Homo sapiens: one gene and its partners. The protein of the gene in region 3 purifies or fractionates together with the protein of the main gene of each other region. This does not show direct contact. Each region holds a gene or a part of one and is shown on either strand. Other genes may lie near its edges. The genes, in order: ACAA2, FKBP1B, TAGLN2, NAXD, FABP5, PSAT1 and MTHFD1L.

What was found.
Region 1: the proteins of TAGLN2 (region 3) and ACAA2 fractionate together in Homo sapiens (co-fractionation; one large-scale study listed by BioGRID). This does not show direct contact.
Region 2: the proteins of TAGLN2 (region 3) and FKBP1B fractionate together in Homo sapiens (co-fractionation; one large-scale study listed by BioGRID). This does not show direct contact.
Region 4: the proteins of TAGLN2 (region 3) and NAXD fractionate together in Homo sapiens (co-fractionation; one large-scale study listed by BioGRID). This does not show direct contact.
Region 5: the proteins of TAGLN2 (region 3) and FABP5 fractionate together in Homo sapiens (co-fractionation; one large-scale study listed by BioGRID). This does not show direct contact.
Region 6: the proteins of TAGLN2 (region 3) and PSAT1 fractionate together in Homo sapiens (co-fractionation; one large-scale study listed by BioGRID). This does not show direct contact.
Region 7: the proteins of TAGLN2 (region 3) and MTHFD1L fractionate together in Homo sapiens (co-fractionation; one large-scale study listed by BioGRID). This does not show direct contact.

Annotation. Positions count from the first base shown.
Region 1 is NC_000018.10:49,793,034-49,796,533, forward strand, and holds part of ACAA2 (3-ketoacyl-CoA thiolase, mitochondrial), read right to left. Parts: intron 2,849-3,500; coding exon 2,732-2,848; intron 1,395-2,731; coding exon 1,247-1,394; intron 1-1,246. UniProt on the Homo sapiens protein: In the production of energy from fats, this is one of the enzymes that catalyzes the last step of the mitochondrial beta-oxidation pathway, an aerobic process breaking down fatty acids into acetyl-CoA.
Region 2 is NC_000002.12:24,052,741-24,056,240, reverse strand, and holds part of FKBP1B (peptidyl-prolyl cis-trans isomerase FKBP1B), read right to left. Parts: intron 2,340-3,500; coding exon 2,292-2,339; intron 2,138-2,291; exon of another isoform or gene 2,049-2,137; intron 1,769-2,048; exon of another isoform or gene 1,625-1,768; intron 1-1,624. UniProt on the Homo sapiens protein: Has the potential to contribute to the immunosuppressive and toxic effects of FK506 and rapamycin. PPIases accelerate the folding of proteins. It catalyzes the cis-trans isomerization of proline imidic peptide bonds in oligopeptides.
Region 3 is NC_000001.11:159,920,060-159,922,507, reverse strand, and holds part of TAGLN2 (transgelin-2), read left to right. Parts: intron 1-1,970; coding exon of another isoform or gene 1,971-1,998; coding exon 1,999-2,178; intron 2,179-2,448.
Region 4 is NC_000013.11:110,632,545-110,636,044, reverse strand, and holds part of NAXD (ATP-dependent (S)-NAD(P)H-hydrate dehydratase), read right to left. Parts: intron 1,501-3,500; coding exon 1,450-1,500; intron 1,374-1,449; coding exon 1,269-1,373; intron 578-1,268; coding exon 457-577; intron 1-456. UniProt on the Homo sapiens protein: Catalyzes the dehydration of the S-form of NAD(P)HX at the expense of ATP, which is converted to ADP.
Region 5 is NC_000008.11:81,279,083-81,283,335, reverse strand, and holds the start of FABP5 (fatty acid-binding protein 5), read right to left. Parts: upstream 2,801-4,253; 5' UTR 2,741-2,800; coding exon 2,662-2,740; intron 2,397-2,661; exon of another isoform or gene 2,292-2,396; intron 2,004-2,291; exon of another isoform or gene 1,912-2,003; intron 1-1,911. UniProt on the Homo sapiens protein: Intracellular carrier for long-chain fatty acids and related active lipids, such as endocannabinoids, that regulate the metabolism and actions of the ligands they bind.
Region 6 is NC_000009.12:78,317,625-78,321,124, reverse strand, and holds part of PSAT1 (phosphoserine aminotransferase), read right to left. Parts: intron 3,450-3,500; coding exon 3,321-3,449; intron 1-3,320. UniProt on the Homo sapiens protein: Involved in L-serine biosynthesis via the phosphorylated pathway, a three-step pathway converting the glycolytic intermediate 3-phospho-D-glycerate into L-serine.
Region 7 is NC_000006.12:151,008,702-151,012,201, reverse strand, and holds part of MTHFD1L (monofunctional C1-tetrahydrofolate synthase, mitochondrial isoform 2 precursor), read right to left. Parts: intron 2,384-3,500; coding exon 2,244-2,383; intron 1-2,243. UniProt on the Homo sapiens protein: May provide the missing metabolic reaction required to link the mitochondria and the cytoplasm in the mammalian model of one-carbon folate metabolism complementing thus the enzymatic activities of MTHFD2.

The DNA of each region.
Region 1 (3,500 bases), on a different chromosome or scaffold from region 3:
TAGATGTAATGGCAATAAATGGACTTAATACCCCTTTTAAACTTCTTTTGGTGAGATAAGCAATTAAAAAGTTACCAAGTTGTCTATGCCACAAAGTAATCTAACTGAAACTTAATAGTGATAGGCAACCTGAAGAAATTATGGGAGCAATCACTAATACAATTATAAGTAAAACATCTTACCTACTTTGACCTCCACTGACTAGAATGTACTGTAGTAATCTATAGCTTTGGAAATAGGGTCAGGAATAATACTAACCTTAATTTTCATATCACTTTACAATTGGCAAAATACTTTCCTTATATGCCCTTATTTGGTTTTAAAACAACCTTATTAGATAAATAGGGAAGGCAAATATTGTTATCTCTATCTTACAGAGGTTCAGTGAATAAATGATATGACTGAGCTTGATAACTTGTGCGTGGTAGAAGTAGAAACAGAACTGATAACTCTTGACTTCTAGACCAATCCTCTTCCACTATGAACATATAAGTAAAAAAACACACGAGTTAGATGGCATCAGCTCTATTCCACTTATCCTTCTGAAATGCTAAGATGGACTTTATCCTCATTACTTCAAGCATTTAATATTCCTAAATAAGAGTTTCCACTTGCTTTAACAGTTTAATTTTTTAAATATCACATTTCTTCAACTTGCTGCACTGCTAAAAGAACTGCTGTCACATTTGCCTGTTTTGGACCGGCTCTATAGCAACCTGCTGTGCTACACCAGGGCACTCTAACTAGAGTCTCGGACTAGTTCTAAGTCTCTGAGTTAGGTACAATGATTCTTAATTAGGAGTGGCAGAAGGAAAGCATAAAAGACCCAGTGGGTCTTTTCCAAATACATTACCCCTTCTTATGATTATGATATGGCTTGTGGGAGAGGACATCCTCTATATTCCAGTTGCCACAGTGAGCTATCACCTCTGACAGAACGTATCGTATTCCTCATCATGTTCTACTGACAACAGGACCAGTTCAGCACAAAACTCAAGGGTCCATCTAGGGTCAAGTAGCAATACCACTTTTTAAGTAGTACTAACTTTTTCAAAAGAGAAATTCCTAGTTAATTTTGCAATAATTAATAAAATATCTGATCATCTAAAGACAAAGGAATAATGAAAAGATGTAATAATTCTTAAAGGTATGATTTGTAAATATTATATAACCATAATAGAAATGATGAAAATATTTCCTATAGATATTTATTCTATAGATACTGATACTTTCCAGTTTCACTCACCAGCTTTCCATCTCTGCTGTGACTGCAGGGCATATTTGTCACATTCTTCTCTGCTTATTTTGTGTTTTACAGCAAGATTCTCTGCAGTCATTGCCATGGGGAGCTGGACATGCTGATCTGTTAATGATACCCATAAAGAATCTTCCAGCTATTAAAAGACATTAATAAAGTGACTTGTTAAGGCATTTCCTTTTAAAAGTAATATGTTATAATTTCTTTAAATAATCAACACTTCCAATAAACAAAAGTAAAATTAAGACTTTCTGATAACCACTATTCATATTCAGTTATGGGATATTTTTTAAAAACATGCAATGTTTTTGAAAACATTCAATGTCACAAAATAAAATGCACACATTCTCTGTCCCTCTCTAAATGTGGGGGTCTAAGAACAGCTAACAGGACTAGACGTGCATGGTGAGATCACAGAAGTTACCCTACGATCAAAAATTAAATCCTCAAGGTCATATTTTGTAGAAAACCTGACAATGAGTCTTCATGCAATGTTTTCTTATAGCCATCTTTGTAAACCAGCCCTGAGCTCTGTAATAAACAGTATTATCTGTTTTTCTTTTTCATCCTGCGCCTCAGTGACAGGAATAGCTGGTTCTATCGGTTACTATGAGGCTGAAAAGATCTTGGGACAGGTTCCCAGAGTTACAGAAAGGTTGTTAATTATTATTCAAGTAGTTAGTCTCTGGTAAGTGTGCCCCACTTTGCTGCCTCATCAACATTTAACTCACTGACCTGTCTTCATAAAAGATATCTCAAATGTGTTTGGTGGCTAAAATCCGCATAGATTCTCTTAAGTCCCATTCCTTTCAACTTCCAAAAAGGCCAGGTGAGAAACTGGGTGAACAGTGTGAGTCAAACATTACTATAGAAAATGCTAAAAAATATAAAATGTCAGTAGCCCTTTCACATGGGAATGAGAAGAAAACATCATTCTTTATCAGTACTGTACCATCATTCTCAAGTTGTAGCTCTCAAAGATAAAAGAATCAGTTTTTGTTTGATTTGGGACAATATAATCTGTATTCAAAGATGTTTTCTGTGATGATGAAGAAATCTATTCTGAGACTGTCCCAGAAATAAAACTTCTATAAGTCACGTTAAAGATTTAATTACTCAGATTACTAATTGTTTAGTAGTGAGATTAATTCACTCTTTTGTCTATCTTTTTAATCCACTTCTTCCCTTCCTCCATCTCTCCCATGCCTATGGCCACTTACACAGGATAATTATACTACTAGAGGTCTGCTGAGATAGATAGAATCTAATTTCATATGGGTTAAAATGTCAAAACTAACCACCAAAATAGAGTTTTGAAATAGTTTACAAACTTCTAATCATTCATATCTTGCCAATCCTCATCAACGAAATTGGCTTCAAAATTAGTTTTCTCTCCCATAAAAAGGTATGTTATTAAAAGTACTTATATAATGCTAATAAGAACTAATTCTTTTAAATTTTTATGGTTCCAACCTTGATATCTGATCCAAGCTTGGTTCCAAAACGCACATTTCTGACACAGTAGGGAGCTTGGCTCATGCTTTCGGTTCCTCCACATAAAACAACTTCAGCTTCTTTAACACAAATTTCCTATTTAAAAACAAACAGTAATAAAAACTCCTTTTACCGTACCCAAACAATGTATTAAGAAACACACTGATTTTACAAATTAATGGTAAATCAAACAAATATTGTACTGTAGCTTACAGTGTCTCAAAAGGAAATGCTTTTAAAGTAACTGTAAAGCAAATGCTAAAGTATCCATTACCAAGATGTAGGAGGAGAAAACTAAAAGGTTTCAATCATGTTTGCCTGAGTAACAGGCCCTACCTACATGTGGCTAAGAATAGTAATTCTTAACACAATATAAATCTTGAAAATCAACAGATATTAATACCTGGCATAAATGTACAGCAGATAATAAAGGACATACCCTTTAAAAAGGCAAAAGAAAAATTTATCCCATTAATGGATGTATCTGAACAAGAACAGAGATTTACAAGAACTAGTTCAATCTAGGTGACTCATAAAAAGGAAACCACTTCATTCTTCCAACACTTTCCACTGTTTGCCTTTCTCAGAAAAGGAGCAAATAATGAGCCTCTATGAACCTGATGGTTCTTAAAATTATTACTAGGAAAACCGAGGTCACTATTTAAGATATATCGTTATAGAAACAAATTAATGTGAAAATTGTTTTATTAAAATACGCCTCTGGCTCTTATTTTGTTTGTAATAAAAT
Region 2 (3,500 bases), on a different chromosome or scaffold from region 3:
AGGCAGGCAGATCACCTGAGGTCAGGAGTTTGAGATCAGCCTGGCCAATATGGTGAAACACCGTCTCTACTAGAAACACAAAAATTAGCCAGGCATGGTGGCGGGCGCCTGTAATCCCAGCTACTCGGGAGGCTAAGGCAGGAGAATCGCTTGAACCCAGGAGGCAGAGGTTGCAGTGAGCCAAGATCATGCCATTTCTCTCCAGCCTGGGCAACATAGACTCTGTCTCAAAAAAAGAAAAAACAAAACAAAACCAAAACCTGACAATAACAAGTGTTGGGGAGGACACAGGGTAACTGGCAGTCTCCTACACAGCTGCCTAGAGTGGAAACTGGCACAACGACTTTGGAAAGCTGTCAGACAGTACTGCTAACGCTGAGCCCAGGAGGTACCCCACTTCCAGGTATATACCCAACAGAAACATGCACATATGTCTGTACACATGTACACTAAGAGATGCCTGCAAGACTGATCAAAGTGACACTGTTTGTAATAAACAAAAACTATGAACAACCCAAATGTTCATCAACGGTAGAGAGGATACATAAATTGCAACATACTTGTACGTTAAAATACTGTAGAGGAATAAACCATTCTGGATATATCTCGCAGACATAATAGTGAGTGAAATAAGCCAAACACAAAAGAGTACCTACGCTGTGGTTCCATTAAGATGAAGTTCAAAAATAGGCAAAACCAATCCATGGAGACAAAAGTCAGAGTAATAGTTGCCAGCCAGGCACAGTGGCTCACACCTGTAATCCCAGCACTAGGAGGCCAAGGTGGAAGGATCACTTGCATACAGGCGTTCGAGACCAGCCCGGGCAACATAGTGAGACCCTCATCTCTACAAAAAATTAAAATTAGCCAGGCATGGTGGCTCATGTCTGTGGTCCCAGCTAGTCAGGACACTGAAGCAGGAGGGTCACTTGAGCCCGAGAGGTCGAGGCTGCAATGAGCTGTGATCACCACTGCACTCAGCCTGAGTCACAGAGTGAGACCCTGTCTCAAAACAACAACAACAATGACAAAAAAAAAAAAAAAAAGAAAAACAATGATAGCTACCTCTAGGGAGGTGAAATGACTGGGAGAAGGCATCAGGGGGACTTTTGGGGATGCTGGTTCTATGCTTGTATGTTCTATGCTTCTCTAGGTGGTAGTCACATAAATGTGATCACTTTGAAAAAATTCATTGACCTAGACATCTTACATTATGTTCTCTACTATATTTATATTTAACTTTAAAGTTTACCAAAAGTCCCATAGTCTCCCGCTATGTTTGATAAGACATAGTCTCTCCCAAGACAGGAGCTGCTGCCCTATGTATGTATTGTGAAAGGACTTTGCAAAAGGATGTTGTGGTTTCAGTAACTTGATAAATACTGGTCTGTCTACAACATGCAAAATTGTTAAATCAATTACACAGGTCAGAGGCCCCAGACGACCCATGGTAATTAGGCCACATCACCAGGAGATAAAACATGGTCCAGCCCACTGACATCAGCGACCAGCAACACAACTGCTGAAAACATCCACACCATCTGCCTAGAATTAACCTTGTGCTTCACACTGGCCCACAGAACTGCTAAAAATGGCCCCATCCGAGTATGTCCTAGGAATTAACCTGGGCTTGCTGTCTGCTAAGTGGCTGTCATCGAGTTTGCCACTTTAGGAAGCAGGTCACAAGGCAGGGTGCTCACCTCCCTTGGAACAAACACCTGCTCATGATCTTCCTGCCAGCAGTCCTGAAGAACTCACTCTACCTCGCCTGCAGATAAAGAGCATCCAACTGGGATCAGTCCCGCTCTGGGCTCCCTCAGTACCCAGAGAAAAGCACTGCCATCACCCCACCCCTCAAATGGCATCGGAGCCTCTGGGTGACTTGTCTGTCCTCTCCCCTCCTCTTCTTCTCTAATGATACTGCAGGATGGAGAGAAAGTCTGCGGGGAGCTCTAGGAGGGATTTCCAAATATCAGACAGACCCAGCAGGGACAGGGGCTCCACCATACCTGCAACAGAAGGAAGGGGACTGAAGGTGTTTGACTCACCTAGAAGCTGGCACCATGGATGGCCCTTGCTGGTAGAAGAGGGAAAGAGTTGGCCTTCCAAGCCTCCTTTATCATTCCCACTAGACTGGCTGGGAGGAGTAGAGGATGGCTGGTCACAGGGAGACCCTGCTGCCTTGGGCTTTAGCCCTGATCCAGAGGCAGGCACCTCTGGAGAGAAGCTCAGAGGACAGCCCTGCCTTGGGAGGGGAAGGACTGGGTGGGGGCTGAGGGGGTGAGACTTACCTGTGTAGTGCACCACACACGTTTGGCCCTTCTTGGGGAATGTCCTTCCTGCAGGGAGACATGAGGGCAGATGAAGGAGTAGGATATTGGAAAAACACCTGGGACATTAAGTATGATCCTGACCAAGAGCTCCAGCCTGCATTCCCCTCCATGCCATGGAGATGCCTGTGGCCCTAGTTCTGGCTCTGGGCCCTGTACGAGCCAGAATGAATCACGTCACCTCTCTGGCCTGGATTTACTTTACCCCCTCAATTTTCTCAATTCTGCTGTCTCCTGGGCTTTCCCACCACCCCACCCCCACTTTCTTTGATTGCCCCTTTTACTTCACATCATCCATTCCACAGACATTTACAGTTGGCCTCCTATGTGCCAGGCCTGGACCAGACTTCAGACATGCAGAGCAATGTATGAACTCATGAGGAAGGTAGGGAAACAGACACACAAATACCAGATTACAATGCAGATTATAATCCATCCATCAAAGATGAATAAACACAATAATTTACAAATATTTGCTGAGAGGCCAGGCATGGTGGCTCACATCTGTAATCTCAGCACTTTGGGAGGCTGAGGTGGGAGGATCACTTGAGCTCAGGAGTTCTAGATCACCCTGGGTAACATAGGGAGACCCCATCTCTAAAAAAAAAAAAAAAAAAAAAAAATCTTTTCAATTAGCTGGGTGTGGTGCCGCATACCTATAGTCCCAGCTACTGAAGAAGCTGAAGTGGAAGGATTGTTTGAGCCCAGGAGGTCAAGGCTGCAGTGAGCTGTGTTCATGCTACTGCACTCTACCCTGGGTGACAGAGCAAGACCCTGTCACAATAAACAAACAGACAAAACAAAACAAAACAAAACCACAAATATTTACTGAGTACCTATGGTGTGCCAAGCCTGTGCCTGATCACAGGGATACAGCAGTGAACACTACAAACAAGATCTCTATCCCTGTTCTTTTAGAGTTTACTTTTTTTTTTTAAGAGTAGGGGTCTCAGTGTGTCACCCAGGCTGGAGTGCAACAGCATGATCTCGGCTCTGTGCAGCCTTGACCTTTCCTGGGCTCAAGCAATCTTTCTTCCTCTGCCTTCTGAGTAGCTAGTACTGCAAGTGCATGCTGCCATGCCCAGCTAATTTTTTTAAAAAAAATTTGTAGAGACAGGGTCTTAACATGTTGTCCAGGTTGGCCTTGAACTCCTGAGCTCAAGAGATTCT
Region 3 (2,448 bases):
GAAGGGCAGGGATGCTTCTCTTGGTTTCTCCTCAGAACTCAGCCACCCCACCCCGCCTGCCTTCCCCAAGCTGATGGTGTGTGTGCCTGGCGCTGTGGGTCGGGGCCCAGACTGACATTTATCTGGCCCAGCTTTCGGGCTGGGGGAAGTGGAGGGGGCGGGTTGCTCTTAATGAGGTTTAAAAATAACTGATTTAGGGGAGGATCTGCCGGAAATGTGCAGCTTGATAAGCTGGGGTAAAAAGGAGCAGCCATGTTGGAGTCGGGACGGGAGGGACTGGCCCAAGACACAGCCTCTGCGGCCGAGAGGTGTTGAGGGTTTGAGGCAGGCTGGTCCCCTTGTATTTCGCAGAGCCCCAAGGTCCATTGAGAGGGGGTGACGGGATTGTTTAACCTGGGTGTGTGGGAGAGGGGGAGCTGGAGTGACTTCATCCCTGAAGGCCAACCTGGCCTGGAGCCAGATGTGGTTAGAAGGGGTGGCTCTCTTTCTTCCCCTTGAACGCAGATGCCTGTCCTGGGGGTCCCCTTTCGTGAGCAGCCTGACAGCTAGCTCTGTTTTGGAGAAGAGAGAAAAGCCAAACCAGGGTGGGGATGGGACAGAAAATGGGGACTGTGGCCCATTCTTGGTTCTTGGCTCCCCTTGGCATCCATACCATGCCCGGGTCTTGCTCAGCCCCTGAGTGTCAGACCCAGGTGGTGAGTGTGGTGGGAACACACTGCCACAGTGAGGTCCGCCAACTCAGGCCATTGGTCGGGAAACCACCCAGTTCTTGCTAATCAAGCTCCTCCAACGAAGTTAAAGAAACCCTCCTGTGTATTTCCCCGTCTTGCCTTCTCTTCTCCAGGTTTCCCCAAAAATATCACCCAGGGCTCCTGTATTAGTTTCCTATTTCTGCTGTAACAAATTGCTACAAGCTTAGTGATTTAAAGCAACACAAATACAGCATCTTACAGTTCTACAGACTCAACAGGGGTCTCACTGGCTAAAATACAGGTGTTGGCAGAGCTGTGTTCCTTCTGGGGTTTTTGGGTGAATCTATTTCCTTCCCTTTTCTGGCTTCTGGAGGCCACCTGCATTGCTTGGTTCATGGCCCTGTGTGACTCTGACTTCTACTTCCATTTTGTTGTTGTTGTTGTTACTTCTCCCACTCTGACTCACCTATCTCCCACTTTCAGTTAGTAAGGCCCTTGTGATTACACTGGGCTCATTTAGATGATGCAGGATAATCTCCCCATTTCGAGATCTTAATCACATCTACGAAGTCCCTTTTTGTCATATAAGATAACAATATCCACAGGTTCTGGGAATTAGGACATGGACACCTTTTGCGGGGGCATGATTCTGCCTGTCATAGCTCCTAGAGGGGAAAGTAGAATTTGTTTTTATTGCCTGGTTTTTCATAGGAAATTCGATTTGTTTGCTGAAATCCCTCAAGGACCTATTCAAGCCTACCTCTTCCAGAAAGCCTTCCCAGGCTGCTTCTGCCCGTCTGCTTCTTTTAACTCCTACAACATGTGATCTGAACTGTGCACTTTAGTATTCTTTGTGTGCAATCCTTACCTGTTCATATGTACTCACTTTGTCTCCCTGATGGCACTGTGGGCACTTGAGGACCAAGGACTTCTACTATCTCTTTCACAATCCCTAGCACAGATAGTAGGTGCTCAATTAAAATCCAGTGGTTTGCACCAACCTAGATGGTTAAAAAAAAAGCAAAGAAAACCCAGAGGTTGAGGGAGGGTAGATCCAACCAGTTTCCTAAGCTGTTCCACATTCCTCCTCCTCTCCCCAAATCATTCTCTTTCCCAGGGCTATAAAGAGCAGGGTTGCATTTGGTAACAGTTCTGGTCCTCATCCTTGGGGCTCACCGTGGGGGAAATGGTGTATATCCCTGCAGGCAGAATTCCTGAATTCCCCACTCCCCAGGCTGCAAGGTGTTGACCAAAAGCCCGGGTGTGTCCTCTCCCTAGCTCCCCGCAGCCACCGCCACCCATTGGAATGGCCAACAGGGGACCTGCATATGGCCTGAGCCGGGAGGTGCAGCAGAAGATTGAGAAACAATATGATGCAGATCTGGAGCAGATCCTGATCCAGTGGATCACCACCCAGTGCCGAAAGGATGTGGGCCGGCCCCAGCCTGGACGCGAGAACTTCCAGAACTGGCTCAAGGATGGCACGGTGAGAGCCGGGCCCCACTGGCTTGGAAGTGCAGGGAGAGCAGGACTGGGTCCAGTGGACTGGGGATTGTTTAACCTGAAGAGGAGAAGACTGAAGGCACACATGTCCCAGCCTCTTCCTCAGCTTGAAGGCCTTTGTCAAGGATGTGAGAGGGCCCATGCTTTCCTCCCTTCCCGTGGAGTGGAGGGTAAGGGTGAATGTGCCTCCCAGGCAGTGGAAGACTGAGGTGACACTGAGGAAGAATGTCTCTAAGGAAAGAACTGTGGGAGG
Region 4 (3,500 bases), on a different chromosome or scaffold from region 3:
ACTACCAGCATCAGCTTCGGGGCTTTCTGCACTTTCCAGTCATTTTGATAAAAGAGAATGAAATGCAATAAAATACCCAAATAACTGCATGGATGGTGGATGCCACAGGTGAGATGAAGGTGGCAGCTGGAGACGCGGGACCCTGCACTGTGCCCTGCTGTTGCAGGCACCCTCCCGCCAGACTGCTTCTCATAACTGAGGCAAGGGAATTCAACCAACGGGTAAGGCCCACGGCTCGAAAGCCTGCCCTCACCACTGTCACCTCCCCTGGCAAAACAGTGAAAAGTCAAAACATGGACTCTGAAGAAAGTGTGGTTGACGAGCTCATCAGGAATCCCTGTGTGAATGTGTGTGAACACGGGTGTGCACGGGAGAGGTCTTCCAGGGCTCATGCTCGGTGTGGCCATGCTGACTGACCTGGCACTGGCCCATGCACAGAGGGCAGCCGCCACTCACCCTGCTGGCCGTTGGAGAGGATGTCGCGCTCTCCTTTCTGGACCACCGTCACGTTGCCCAGGGCTTGGCTGAGTCTTAGCACAGATCCATGGCTGTCATCGCTGTCCATAGGGCCTCTGAGCTATGACAACACAGGAAGACAGAGAAAAAGCAAAGTCTTCCTCAGACACACGACGACAGATAGCCCTGTCCCATCCGCCATGAGACTCATGCTCTCGTGTCTAAAGGGATCACCCAGGCACCTGTTAAAGGCCATGTAGGTGGGAGGATGCCCAGGATATCACCTGCAGTGAGTCCTCCGAGCAGGTGCTGACACGGTGCCTGCTCCAGTGCCCATCCTCTACCTCATCAGAGCAGGCTGAAGGAGGACCACCCAAGACTGGGTTCTGAGAGCTTTGCAGGAGTAATACAAATTCCAGTCGTACTGGGCACTAACATTGATGGGACACTTACCATGTGGGGACTCACGGCTTTACATAGGTTTCCTCATCTCATCCTCACAACCCCGTGAAGCTGATGCCATCATCACATTACAGATGAGGCACTCAGGACACAGACAAAGTGACCTGTCCAGAGTGCACTGCAGGAGGGGCTGACTGACCCGAGTCCCTGCCTGTCCCAAGCCCACTACACCATCGTTCATCCAATCCAAGCGCATTAATGGGAAGACGCGCCATCCGCTGGGAGAGGCACAGCGATTACTTGCAGGTGTGTCCACAGGGACAGGCTGGGCAGAAGCATGGAGCTCGTCCTTCACCCTCTTCAGGACGAACAGGGCTTGCATCTACCCTCCAGGGGGTCCACTGACTCACCACAGCGTCATACAGTCTGCTGAACTCCACGTGGTTGGGAGTGAGCACAGCCTTCCGGTAGCCATGGATGAGGGCCGGCTGCTGAGCGACCAGCCACAGGCCATCCTGCACAGAACAAGGAGCCGTGCTCACTGCACAGGCCTTCCGGGAGTCCGAGCCAGGAGGAGAGAAGTCAACTCACCGCGTCGATGACAACAGGGATGTCCCTGGCCTTTGACACTTCCAAAATGCCCTGCCAGAAGAGAAAACCAGACTGAGCACCATGCCTGCTGCTATGGTGTGGGTATGTGTCTTCTCAAAACTCATGGTGAAACTTAATTGCCAAGGGAAGGGTCCTGGGAGGTGGGGCCTTTAAAAGGTGATGTGGCAGTGTCCTCATGGGTTGGTTTAATGACCTTTAAAAGAGGCATAAGGGTCTCTCTCCTGCCCTTCTGCCCTCGCCAGATGCCGGCACCTTGATGTTGGACATCCACCTTCAGAACTGTGAGCCAGTAAACGCCTGTTCATTATCAATTACCCAGTCTGTGGTACGGCTACAGCAGCGCAAAACCGACTAAGACACTTTTCCCAAGAGTGACAGAAAATTGAGCAGACTCTTAATAAAATGCAACATCAGGCCATCAAACAATAAATGGAAAATAATCAAGTAAATGAATAAAATAGAGAAGCAGAAAGACCCAATGAACTCGCAGAGCCCGTAAACAAGGCAGGACACTGGGAACTCTGAAAGGCGAAGCCCACTGGAAACGCTATGAACAACAGCTGGGCTCCTAGGCTAACCCATGAAGACAGCCCCCGCCCCAGCAAGGGCATCCAGTTCTCCAACAGATACTAATACGCAGCATTCGGAGGCAGGAAATCTGAATTCCTGAGAATTCCCCAAATCATTAGTCATTATGTATTTTTCATATCACTTTACTTACACGTTTTAAAATAACAACAATAATAAACAGGGAATCATTTTTCCCTGATAGGATTACAGTGAAGGTTTCAAAGGTTTTCTATTAAAAAAAAAAAACTACATGTATAGATACACACACATATATGTAATATTTGGTGGTTTTTATTATTATGAGCCAATACATTGTGACAAGATTATACACTGCAGTAGCATGTAAAGTGATCCTGACTTGACAGACACCTGATAATACAAAACATTAAAATAGAAAACATTAAACAAAATGAGAGGTGACAGCATGCTGGCAGTCCTCAGAGCCCTCGCTTGCTCTCAGCACCTCCTCTGCCTGGGCTCCCACTTTGGCGGCATTTGAGGAGCCCTTCAGCCCACCACTGCACTGTGGGAGCCCCTTTCTGGGCTGGCCAAGGCTGGAGCCCACTCCCTCAGCTTGCAGGGAGGTGTGGAGGGAGAGGCGCGAGCGGGAACTGGGGCTGCCTGCAGCGCTTGCGGGCCAGCTGGAGTTCCGGGTGGGCGTGGGCTTGGCGGGCCCCGCACTCGGAGCAGCCGGCCAGCCCTGCTGGCCCGGGGCAATGAGGGACTTAGCACCCGGGCCAGCGGCTGCAGAGGGTGTACTGGGTCCTGCAGCAGTGCCAGCCCACCGGCACTGTGCTCAATTTCTCACCGGGCCTTAGCTGCCTTCCCGCCGGGCAGGGCTCGGGACCTGCAGCCCGCCATGCCTGAGCCTCCCACCCCCTCCATGGGCTCCTGTGCGGCCCGAGCCTCCCCGACGAGCACCACCCCCTGCTCCACGGCACCCAGTCCCATCGACCACCCAAGGGCTGAGGAATGCGAACGCACGGCGCAGGACTGGCAGGCAGCTCCACCTGCAGCCCTGGTGCGGGATCCACTGGGTGAAGCCAGCTGGGCTCCTGAGTCTGGTGGGGATGTGGAGAGTCTTTATATCTAGCTCAGGGATTGTAAACACACCAATCAGCACCCTGTGTCTAGCTCAGGGTTTGTGAGTGCACCAATCAGCACCCTGTGTTTAGCTCAGGGTTTGTGAATGCACCAATCGACACTCTGTATCTAGCTGCTCTGGTGGGGCCTTGGAGAACCTTTATGTCTAGGTCAGGGATTGTAAATACACCAATCGGCACTCTGTATCTAGCTCAAGGTTTGTAAATACACCAATCAGCACTCTGTGTCTAACTCAGGGTTTGTGAGTGCACCTATCGACACTCTGTATCTAGATGCTCTGGTGGGGCCTTGGAGAACCTGTGTGTCGAAACTCTGTATCTAACTAATCTGATGGGGACGTGGAGAACCTTTGTGTC
Region 5 (4,253 bases), on a different chromosome or scaffold from region 3:
GGAAGACCAAAGTTATCATTTACATGATAAAAGCAATAATTCCATTGTAATCACTTTGTGCGGCATATTTTCACTTATTTGCTTATTGATAACTATTGTAAACATATATCCCACGGTATGAGCCAGCACTTTACATATATGAAATTCAGGTAAGCCTTACAACAGCCCTGTAAAAGGCAGATGTTACTGTCTCCATTTTACTGATGAGAAAGCGAGGCACGGAAGTAACTTGCCCAAGATCATTCAACTAGAAAGTGATGGAGCTGGGAACCAAGAGCACTGGCACCCTGGCTCCAAATCTGAGCTCTGGCCACCATGCTATGCTGGCTTTCAGAAAGTTAGGGAAGAAATGTGGACTTCCAAATTTTATTTACTCAAAGCAGTTGATAGAAGGTGGAGATAAAGCATTCAAAATTGCAAATTCAGGAGTTTGCTCAATCTTTTTCTTTTTACTAGATTCTGCCAACCATTACATTCTATGACTCCAGCACAGTCTGGCATATAAATGTTCTCGATAAATATTTGATTAATAGACTACACAAAATAGAAATTGATCCTGAGATATTCAAATAGCACAATCTTTTAAAACTCAGCAGCACAATCATGATGCTAACAAATGGGAAAAAAAATCCTACCTTTCAATATAAAAACTATTTCATAGGTATATAAATCAATAGAAATATATAACATATTAAATTATATTTTAATTTATGATCTATCAATTTCCCCTCAACGTTAACATGTAATTTATGATCTATCTCTTTCCCCTTAGAGTTAGTTAACATGTATAAGGAATCTTAGATCCAGGCCAAATCACTGTTTCATAAATGAGGAGACTACAACCTACGCAGCATGATTGTCTTGATGAAGAACACCCAGCCAGGCTTTAAAGTTCCCCTTGGAGCCTTCTCTTTTGCCAGCTCAGGGCTGGTGCCTTATGCTGTTAATTGAGTCATTATGTACTCTCACTTTGGACAAATAAATGGGCTCTGCTCTTTTCACATTGTGACTGCTCCCTAATGAACTGAGTCTTGACAACCTTCAAGACTCCAGAATCCTGGAAACAAGCCCTCCAAACCTACACACAATTTGCTTTCTACAGGCAGAGAAAAGTGTTCTTTGGGCCTTAAACTTGTACACACACACACACACACACACACACACACACTGTTATTTATTGGACAGGTGCAGTAAATCGCTTTTTCCAGAGTCATCTTGATGTAGGTTTACAAGGAAAAAGAAAAATACTGCCTTCTTTACTGATAGTATCAAAAATACACTCATGATTCACCATAAACCAGCCTTAACACCACATGGTCTTGGATAAAGGGTACTGAAGGAGTGATTCCGAAGTGCCACGGCGACCAGGTATCAATAGAGGGTCACGGTAGTTATTTCACCAGCGAGCAACCGGGTTAACATTTGTGGATACCGGCTTCTGAAGCACCCTCATAAATCCCAGCCATCCCTTAGGGCTGGAAGCTCCCTTCCAGAGAGGATCCATGCTATGCTAACTCCATCTCACTTCCTAGTGGCCTGTGACAAAGGTCCATTTTTGTTTGCAATTTATCCAGTGTCTCAATCAGCATGCAATCTGTCACTGGCATAGAAAAGGACAGTAATTTATAATGAAGCACTGTTTTGAGTGAGAAATGAATCTTACTACTGAGATTCATTCTCCCTCGGAACGCTTCAAGAAGTCATCTGCCTTCTGCAGGGCCACACCCATCTTGCATGCAGTTAGCCGCAGGAGGGCCAGGCAGTTTCTGTTACGGTTTTCCAGCAAAGCCCACTGCCTCCTTCCTCCTCACCCTCAAGTGGCAGAGGCCAGGATGGCAACACACGGCCACCCCCAGGCCTCATTGCGCTCCTCCCACAGGCCACCCGCCCACTGCGGCGCCCCGGCCCGGCAGTGCCAGCAGCAGGTCGGCACCGCCAGCGCCACGCTTCTCGGGGGCCCTGGTGTTCCATGGGGTACCAATCCAAAGGGTTCGGCTCAACTGGTAAGGGCGAGCAGAGGACCTGGGGGAGACGGGGCTGACAGAGGAATGCAAGCTGAAGCTGTAGCGCCACTCAGACCCCTCCACAGGATTTCTGCGGGAAACTGCGCGCCAGCACCGCGTCCCCATGAAGAAAACGGAGGGTGACCTGCGCGCCACAGGGAACAAAAGATGCGACAGGGAGGGAAAGGGGAGTGGGTGCTGCCACGATGGGGTAAATGGGAGAGACAGAATGGTGGCAGGAAGGGGAAGGATGAGTAAAGGGGGAAAAAAGGGAAATACAGGGTCGCCTGGAGGGGGTCGAAAGAAGTGCAGCGTGAGGTGACGGGTGCGCGCGCTAAAGGACAGGAAGCAATGCGGAAGGGCTGCCGTTTGGGCGAAGGGAAAGAAGCAGAGGTAGGTGGACCACGGGGTGGACCACCTCCGGAATCTTGCGGCCCGCGGGCGGGCAAGAGGCGCGCACGCTCCCTGCTCCTCGCCGCCTGCCCGCGTGGTGCTGCGCGCGCTGCACCCAACGGCCGCGTGGTGGGGAAGATGGGAGGGGATGGGGGTAGGCCGCCGAGCATCTCCTGCCCCAGAATCTGGCACGCTGACGGGGACCTAGGGACAGACGACCGCACAACACGCCACGTTGCAGGCGCTGCCAGGCCGGGTGCCTCACCTAGCTCCTTCATGTATTCATCAAAGCCTTTGCTGTCCACCAGGCGCCATCTTCCTTCCAGCTGCTGAACTGTGGCCATGGTGGGTGCGGGCGGGCTGGCGTGCAGAGAGGGGTCTGCGTCGGCGTGGCAGCGTGCTGTGAGGCACCCGGCGCCGGCGGCTGCTTTATAACGGCGGCCCGCGCTGGGCGGCGCTATGCGGCCAATGGGAGGCGGGCCTCGCCCGGTCCCCGCCCCGCCCGCCGGGCGCCCCCTGGGCCTTCTCGGGGTCGGGAGGTGCTAACCAGCTCCTCTTGCCAGGGTACGCGACGGCCTCTCGGGCGCCTCCTGCAAGCAGGGACTCGCCCGGCGCGCCCCACGCCTCATGGACGCCGGCGCCTGCACGTTTCGGCGCCTCTGCAGGCCCAGGAAGCCAGAGGGGTCACCTGGAGGCCTGGCCCCGCCTCTCCTGCACCCCTCCGTTTGACAACATATCCACCGCCGTTTTTCCTTTCAAAATACCCGGACCAATCGATTAGCCCTCGCCGGACTCGGACTGCAGGAAGTGATTGATCGGCTGTTTGGTTTATTGATTCATTAACTACGGTGCCTCCCTGACCTTCTGCTCCTCGCCAGCGCACAAGCTCACAATCCACACCCTCCTAAGAGAACCTGCTCTCGCCATCCGCAGGTCTCCCTGGCCCAATAGTGGGGATATACCTGAGTTGAGCTAGAGGATTTTATCCCTGTTGGGATGGGGGACGTCTCGGGAAGTGTGGTTTCTAAACTAAAAGACTGCAGGAAGTGTCAACTTTAGTGACTGTCATTGCCATTCAAGAATGTTTGATTAGTTTATATTCCCTTCGTAGTGCACCCTTCACCGTTTCTTCTCAGACACCAGCGGGTTTCTTCTCAGACACCAGCGGGTTCCCTCTTTCTCTTGAACTATAATAATACCCTACACATGTGCGTAGAACATGATACGTTTCAAAGTGTACTCTTCACAATTTATTACTTGGTGCTCCCGGGTGCCTGTTGGAAGTCAGATGGACTGAGGTGAGGAAGTTGCCACACAGGCTGGCCGTTTCGATAGCGGTAATGTGCATTTATTGAGTAGCTACTAAGTGCTAGATGTGCTTCCTGGGCACTTTATAGACATTGGTCTCCACTATATTTTTGCTAGGGGTGTTATCCCAATTTTTCAAAAGAGAAAATAGGGCAAAGATAGTTCTCACAGTGGTAGAACCAGAATCCCCATCCAGGTCCGTCTCACTGAAGACCTTATGAAATCAGACCACACCTGACTGCCTTGGGCTCAGGGTAGCTGTGATGGAGCTCTGAGTAGACCACAGTCACCGAGACACTACTAGTTCTTGTATCATCCTTGACAAAATTGAAATCTGAGGTTGGTTTGCTATCTCCCAACATGCTGCAGGACATGTACTCCCCTGAACTGCATCCCTTTCATTTCAAGTCCCTGCCCTCAGTTTAGGGTCACACCAGTCTTCCTTGTGGTACCATTTAACACTCAATTGTTTTCCCAATAAGGGTCTGCATGTCCCACACCCGAGGCCCTACTGCTCAGAAAATATTCGTGTTCTGAGGGAAGCTGAGT
Region 6 (3,500 bases), on a different chromosome or scaffold from region 3:
GAGATGACCTGCCCAGGAGATGACCTGCCTGCCACATTAGTTTGGCAGGCTGCCTTCTGGGAGAGGCCCAGGTTTAGTGCTTGGAGTTAAAGGACCTAGGCGTGGCGGGGGGGGATTCAGGAGAGTCCCAGAATTCCTTCTATGCTTTCTTATTTTGTTCCTGATGCCCTTAATTTTTTTCCCAGTGGTATCACCGTTCTTTCTGTCCTCTAACATCATGTCTACACATCTCCTGAGAAATGTATAGAGCTAAAAGCTAATAGAAAAATTGGTCTCCCGTCCACTATACCCACCAAGTGCTTTTACTCACATTCAGGTTCTCAGCACTTTTTAGGGAGCCAGGGAAGATGATTTATTCTTCTCGGTCTTCCAGGAGCCTAGAACAAGGCTAGTGTACAGAGCAGGTCCTCAGGAGCCATTTTATGGATGGATGGACGGTTGGATGGATGGACAGATGGATAGATGGATGGGTGGGTGGGTGGATGGGTGGGTGGGAGAATGGATGAGTGGATGGATGGATGGATGGACAAGTGGGTAGATAGATGGGCGGATAGGTGGAAGGGTGAATGGACAGATGAGTGGGTGGGCGGGTGGATGAATGAGTGGATGGATGGATGGATGGATAGATAGATGGGTAGATAGGTGGAAGGGTGAATGAATAGATGGGTGGGTGATGGATGGATAGATGGATGGGTGGGTGTGTAGGTAGATGGATAGATAGGTGGGTGTGTGGATGGGTGGGTGAATGGATGGATGGGTGGGCAGATGGATGGATGGATGGATGGATAGATGGATGGATGGAAGATTGATGGATGAGTGGATGGGTAGGTGAGTGGATGGATGAATGGATGGATGGATGAATGGGTGGACAGATGGATGTCTGGATGAGTGGATGGGTGAATGAATGGGCGGGTGGATAGATGGGTGGATGGGTGAATGGGTAGATGGGTGAATAGGTGGGTGGAAGGATGGGTGGGTAATGGATGGATAGATGGATGAGTGAGTGGGTAGATGGATGGATAGGTAGGCAGGTGGTAGATGAATAGATGGATGGGTGGGTCAATGGTGGATGGATGAGTGGATGAGTGGATGAATGTATAGATGAATGGGTAGACAGATGGATGAATGAATGAATGAGTGAATGAGTGGATGGATAGATGGGTAGGTGGGTGGATGGGTGGGTGAGTAGATGAATGAATGAATAAATAGGTGGACTAAACACGCCCTCACACACTTCCACGGACCTTCTTCCCAATCCCAGCATAAACCATGCCCTTCAAGCAGCCCATGTTCTGCTCCCCAAACACACTGTACACTCTTCCCTCAGTGCCTTTGCGGGGATGATTCTAACCTTTCTAAAAGTACTTCTGCCCTCTTCTCTGCCTAATTCCACTCATGACCAGGGCTCATAATAAGCTCATGCAAAAGCCCTCTCTTCACTCCAACCAAAGAGTATCCCCCTTTTCCAGGCTCATGCCACATTCTTTAGCCCTTGGCTATGAAATCTTTGGATACCTACTGCTGATCGTGCACTTTAAATGGCTTCAGTGAGCACAGGCAGGGTATCCTGGCCTCCAAACTCACACATCAAGGTCTAGTGTGGAAGCTTCCCCAGCACTGAGCCCCCAGCCTGCACTTGCTTCTCTGTTGCACAGAACCAGAGAACAGGCAGTAATGCAGAGTGTGTACCCCTTCCCTGAGATGGTGCCTGGGAAAGGAGCCCAAAGGCCAAGGCATCCCGCCAAGCCTAACTCCCCCTGGGCTTGCAGCTGGAGGAGGGCCACTGCATGTCAAGAGCTCACAGAAACAGGCAACAAGCATTGCAAGAACAAAGGTGACAGCAGCATGCCATCCAAAAAGTACACCAGCACTGCCCGCCCATGGGTGGTTATGGAGATGTGTTAGTTAAGTCTTGGCTAAAAAGTACAATCCTAAGTTAGGACAGAGGCATCGTTTTGTCGGTCCCATGTGGCCACTGAATTATCTGAGAGAGGGCAAATTTCCAACTTACCATCAAGCAGATATTTTTGTTACTATAGACTGAACCCCAAAGAGCAATGGCCACTAAGAAGGGGGTTCTCAGTTTGGTGAGTTTAAGCATTTATGTATATGTGTAGGCGCACATACATGTACACAGCAGGAAGTCTGGTCTTTGTATACCTGTAACCACCTTAAGGGAAAGGGAAAAGCAAATGAAGATACCACCTGTTACACTTCTCTGCATCCAAGGCACCGCACTAGGTGCTTCCCATCTGGCATTTTGGTGAAGGGCCTATTGTTGTGGATTGAATGGTGACCCTGAAAAGGTATGCGCATGTCCTAACCCCCAGAATCTGTGAATATGACCTATTTGGAAAAAAAGGACTTTGCAGATGTCATTATGTGAAGGATCTCGAGATGAGATGATCCTGGATTATCTGGACAGGCCCTAAATCCAAAGACCTCTCTTTTTAAGAGACAGAAGGGAAGACACGGCAGAAAGAAGGCCATGTGAAGACAGATGTGGAGGCTGGAGTGATGCAGCCACAAATCAAGGACCACCCTGAGCCACTAGAATCTAAAGGAGGCAAGGCATGGCTCTCTGGAGGGACCAAAACCCTGCTGACATTTTGATTTTGAACTTCTGGCCCCAGAAGAGTGAGAATCAGTTTTCTGATGTTTTGAGCCACTAAGTCTGTAGTACTTTGTTACACCAGCCCCAGGAAACTAATACAAGACCCAGACATTTTCTGCAGAATTCCCAGGTGCAGGGGCAGTGGTTAAGACATACTCATTAATCATTTGTTCATGGGAATATTTAAACTGGAGTCAGCCCATGCCAAAGCCAATTCCATTCACAGACTCTGGGATAACAGCATCTGTCTTATAATAAGGAAAGGAGTGAATTTTCTTAAAAAGGGAAATAACGCAGAAGAGGAGGACAGGAGTATTTGTCCCAAAGATCGCTAACAGGAGTCCTTAAATTGACACATTTCAGAAAGTACATTTGTTTTTTTCCCAGAAGATATACAAAGGAGGGAGTAGACGGGACCTACCCCAGGGAGTGAACTGAGATTCTTCCCCAGGGCGATGTCTTTGGTGTGAGAAACATCACCACCCACTGGGACACAGGTCCCAAAGCCTGAGAGCCCCAGGGTGAGGTACAGGAGGGAAGAACTCACCACCCACTCCCCTGCTCATGGGGCCCAGGACCACACACACTCACCAGTATTTTAATGTCTCAGAGAAAGGTGAATATGTCCACTTTTCAAAGGTACACAGTATATACACAGTTTTAAATTCACAAGAGGCAAAATAGGAGATAAAATCCATTGACTTACACGTAGAATCCTTGAGAATTATCAATAATCTCATAAATTGTTTGAGATTTGATGGAGCTAAGCTTCTCCATGGCCGCGGCACCTCCATTGTTTTTAATCCACTCCAGAACCAAGCCCATGACGTAGATGCTAAAATGAAGATTTTTAAAAAATCCGTTTAGCTCATCTTTGCAAAAGTAG
Region 7 (3,500 bases), on a different chromosome or scaffold from region 3:
TTAATAAGACACAGTCCCTAAACTCAAGGAATTGAGAATTACATAGGGAGACACAGAACAAGGCATTCATGAAACAATGTGAGGCAGAAGGTACTACTGGAGCCCAGGAGAGGGATGCCTAGCTTCACAGGGCTTCCTGGTCCCTGCTGGTTTTTTTTTTTTTTTTTTTTTTTTTTTTTTTTGTTGTTGTTGTTGTTGTTGAGATGGACTTTTGTTCTTGTCACCCAGGCTGGAGTGCAATGGTGCAATCTCAGATCACTGCAACCTCTGCCTCCCAAGTTCAAGCGATTCTCTTGCCTCAGCCTCCTGAGTAGTGGGAATTACAGGCGCCCGCCACCACTGGTCTTGAACTCCTCAGGTGATCCACCTGCCTCAGCCTCCAAAGTGCTGGGATTACAGGCATGAGCCACCACGCCTGGCTGGTCCCCACCTTTTCTTATCCTCCACCCATATCTGTGCCTACTAACCCTGTTCCATGTTACCATGATCACTGGCTGAGAACCATGACATTAAGCAGCAGTGGAAGAGACACAAAGGATTAATGTGGCACGAAAGTGCAACCACTGAATAACAGAGCACATATGTTAAGATGAATGAAATAGGATTGTAAACCATGTAGAGAATTTTTACAGGACAGAGACCAGAGTCTGGAAAACTATGGGACTGATGTCAAGAGACCAGGACTGTAGATCTGATCAGTCCCTGAAATAGATGTGTGACACCACTCAAGTCACTGCGTCTCCCTGTGCCTCAGAGATTTTCTCTTTATAAAGACTGAATGAGATCAGACAATCTCTAAGCCCTTTCTATAATTTTCAGGGTGGCAGGGCAGGGAGGGAGAATTCCAAATGCATCCTACATGGGCGGAAGTAGTTTTTAAAAATAGAAGTTGTTATACAGATTCAATGTCTAAAATCCAGGAAGGACTGTAGCAACAAGGGGTGTTTTGAGTGAAGTCAGAATTCTTTATGATTTACTACTTTTAATCTGTATTATATCATTCTTGCATTTGAAATGATGATGAAGCTTTAGGCAAAAATGAAGTGCTTAAGTGTCGGGTATTAGGAGTGGATTTGGATTTAGAAAACTTCTGCCCTTCATTAACATCCAGCTCTGCATGGTGGACATAGTAGGAGATTTAGATCTGAAGTTCTCGGCTCTCTGCTGGCCTGCTGACATTGTCCATATTCCCTAAGCCTATCAAAACTCAGCTTCCTTATCTGTAAAATGGTATAAAAATCATGTCCACCTCTCCCAGGAGAAAGAATTGCTTTACAGCGTTTCATGATGGCAAACCTGCTACTTGTTTTGACTATGCAATAATCATTGAATATATGACTTTTGTCACATACACAGTACAGTATACCAATTAAGAAATCAGATTTGGCAGTTCGTCTCATATGTGAATATTATGATAGAGAAATTTTATTTTATTTCAAAATGATTAATCAGTATAAAATGTCTTATTCTCCACTTGGAAATTCCTAAAAATGAAACAAAAAAACAACAAACAAGCAAACAACAACAAAAAAACCCCCAAAAATCTATGCACAGGTTTTCTGTGGAAAGGAATATATTTCCTTTATAATGTCTGTAATTTCTATATATATTAGGATAGGTAAATATAAAAAGTCTTTAAAGAAGTTAAAATCGAATTTGTGTTTTCCAAGCAAAGCTCTTAGAAACAATCCAGTATTATAACAGAGTTGTGAGGAGAAATCATAATAAACAGAAAGAGAAGGAAAATAGTTTTAGATGAAATCTGATGAGTTGCAGCATCAGTGAACCGAAAAACTATCTGTACAAACAATGAAAAATCTCTGTCATCAAAGAACTCACTCTAATCCTCTTGTTCTTCGTTCAGGGACAAGAGCCTCTAACCTCCCATTACCATATGGTTATACAATCTTGGCCTGAGTATCAGATGTGAAGCTTGAGACTAAAAAGTGGTTGCATTATGCTCCTTTCCAAAATATTGTTTAGAAAGAACTGTGGGTGTTACTGTTTACTCGAACTTACTAAACTCAAAGTGCCCTATGGTGGTGTTGGGAAAAAACAAAAAACAACACAAAACAAAAAACGTTTTAGATGTCCACGAGGGAGGTCTACAGGAAAAAAAAAGTTTTAAGAAAAATACTCTAGAAAACTATAGTCATTAAATGGGCAGGAATTTTTCAAATGCTCAATTCTGTTTTAACATAATGAAATTTCTTTGGTATTAGGAAGGCGGTGTGGGCACTTACACTTGGCCCGCCTCCATGCATCTTCAGAGCTCGCACCGTTGCCACTAACACAACCACGTTGGGCACCAAGCCGGAAGCTCGGCACTTGATGTTGAAGAATTTCTCCATTCCGATGTCAGCACCAAAGCCAGCTTCGGTCACTGTGGGGAAGCAAGTGGAATATGTGCTATTATCTTCTAAAAACAAAGGTAGGTTTTGGCAATCACCACTATGATTCGAGCTCAAAGGACAGCTTACATTCCTTTTGTTTACCAACACAAAGGTGAACTGATTTCCCCATTGTCATAGAAATGTTCTTCACTTTCTGCCCTAAAGAGACTGCGCCCTCCTCTGCTTCCCACCGCCAGGCCTGAGGGATTCCTTGTGGTGGCCAGGCCAAGACTTTTCTTCCCATATCATAACTCACAGTGAAGCTTTTTTTTTTGGAGATGGTGTCTTGCCCTGTCGCACAGGCTGGAGTACAGCGGCATGATCTCGGCTCACTGCAACCTCTGCCTCCCGGGCACAAGCGATTCTCCTGACTCAGCCTCCTGAGTAGCTACAGGTGTTTGCCACCACACCTGGCTAATTTTTTATTTTTGTATTTTTAGTAGAGATGGGGTTTCACCATGTTGGCCAGACTGGTCTCAAACTCCTGACCTTGTGATCCACCCGCCTCAGCCTCACAAAGTGCTGGGATTACAGGCGTTGAGCCAAGGTGACCAGCCAGTGAAGCTTTTCTTCATACAGATGGGGATTTTCAACTTTGTAATCAGGTTCCAAATTGTTTCAAAAGGCAATGATAGTATGATTACAATGGAAGATCCTTTCTTACTCTTTTTTTTTTTTTTTTTTTTGAGATGGAGTTTCGCTCTTGTCCCCCAGGCTGGAGTGCAATGGCACAATCTCAGCTCACTGCAACCTCCGCCTCCCGGGTTCAAGCGATTCTCCTGCCTCAGCTTCCCAAGTAGCTGGGATTACAGGAACCCACCACCACACCCGGCTAATTTTTTTTTTTTATTGTTAGTAGAGACGGGTTTTTGCCATGTTGGCCAGGCTGGTCTCAAAGTCCTGATCTCAGGTGATCTGCCCACCTTGGCCTCCCAAAGTGCTGGGATTACAGGCATGAGCCACCACACCCGACCCTTTCTTACCCTTTATATTAAGAATAATTTATTTTAGTGCCACCCAGTAATTTCTGTTAACTGACAAATTTCAAGTTAGTTGAAGGGCATAAGGATACTGATGGTCAATCTGGATACAAGACAGCAGCTTTAT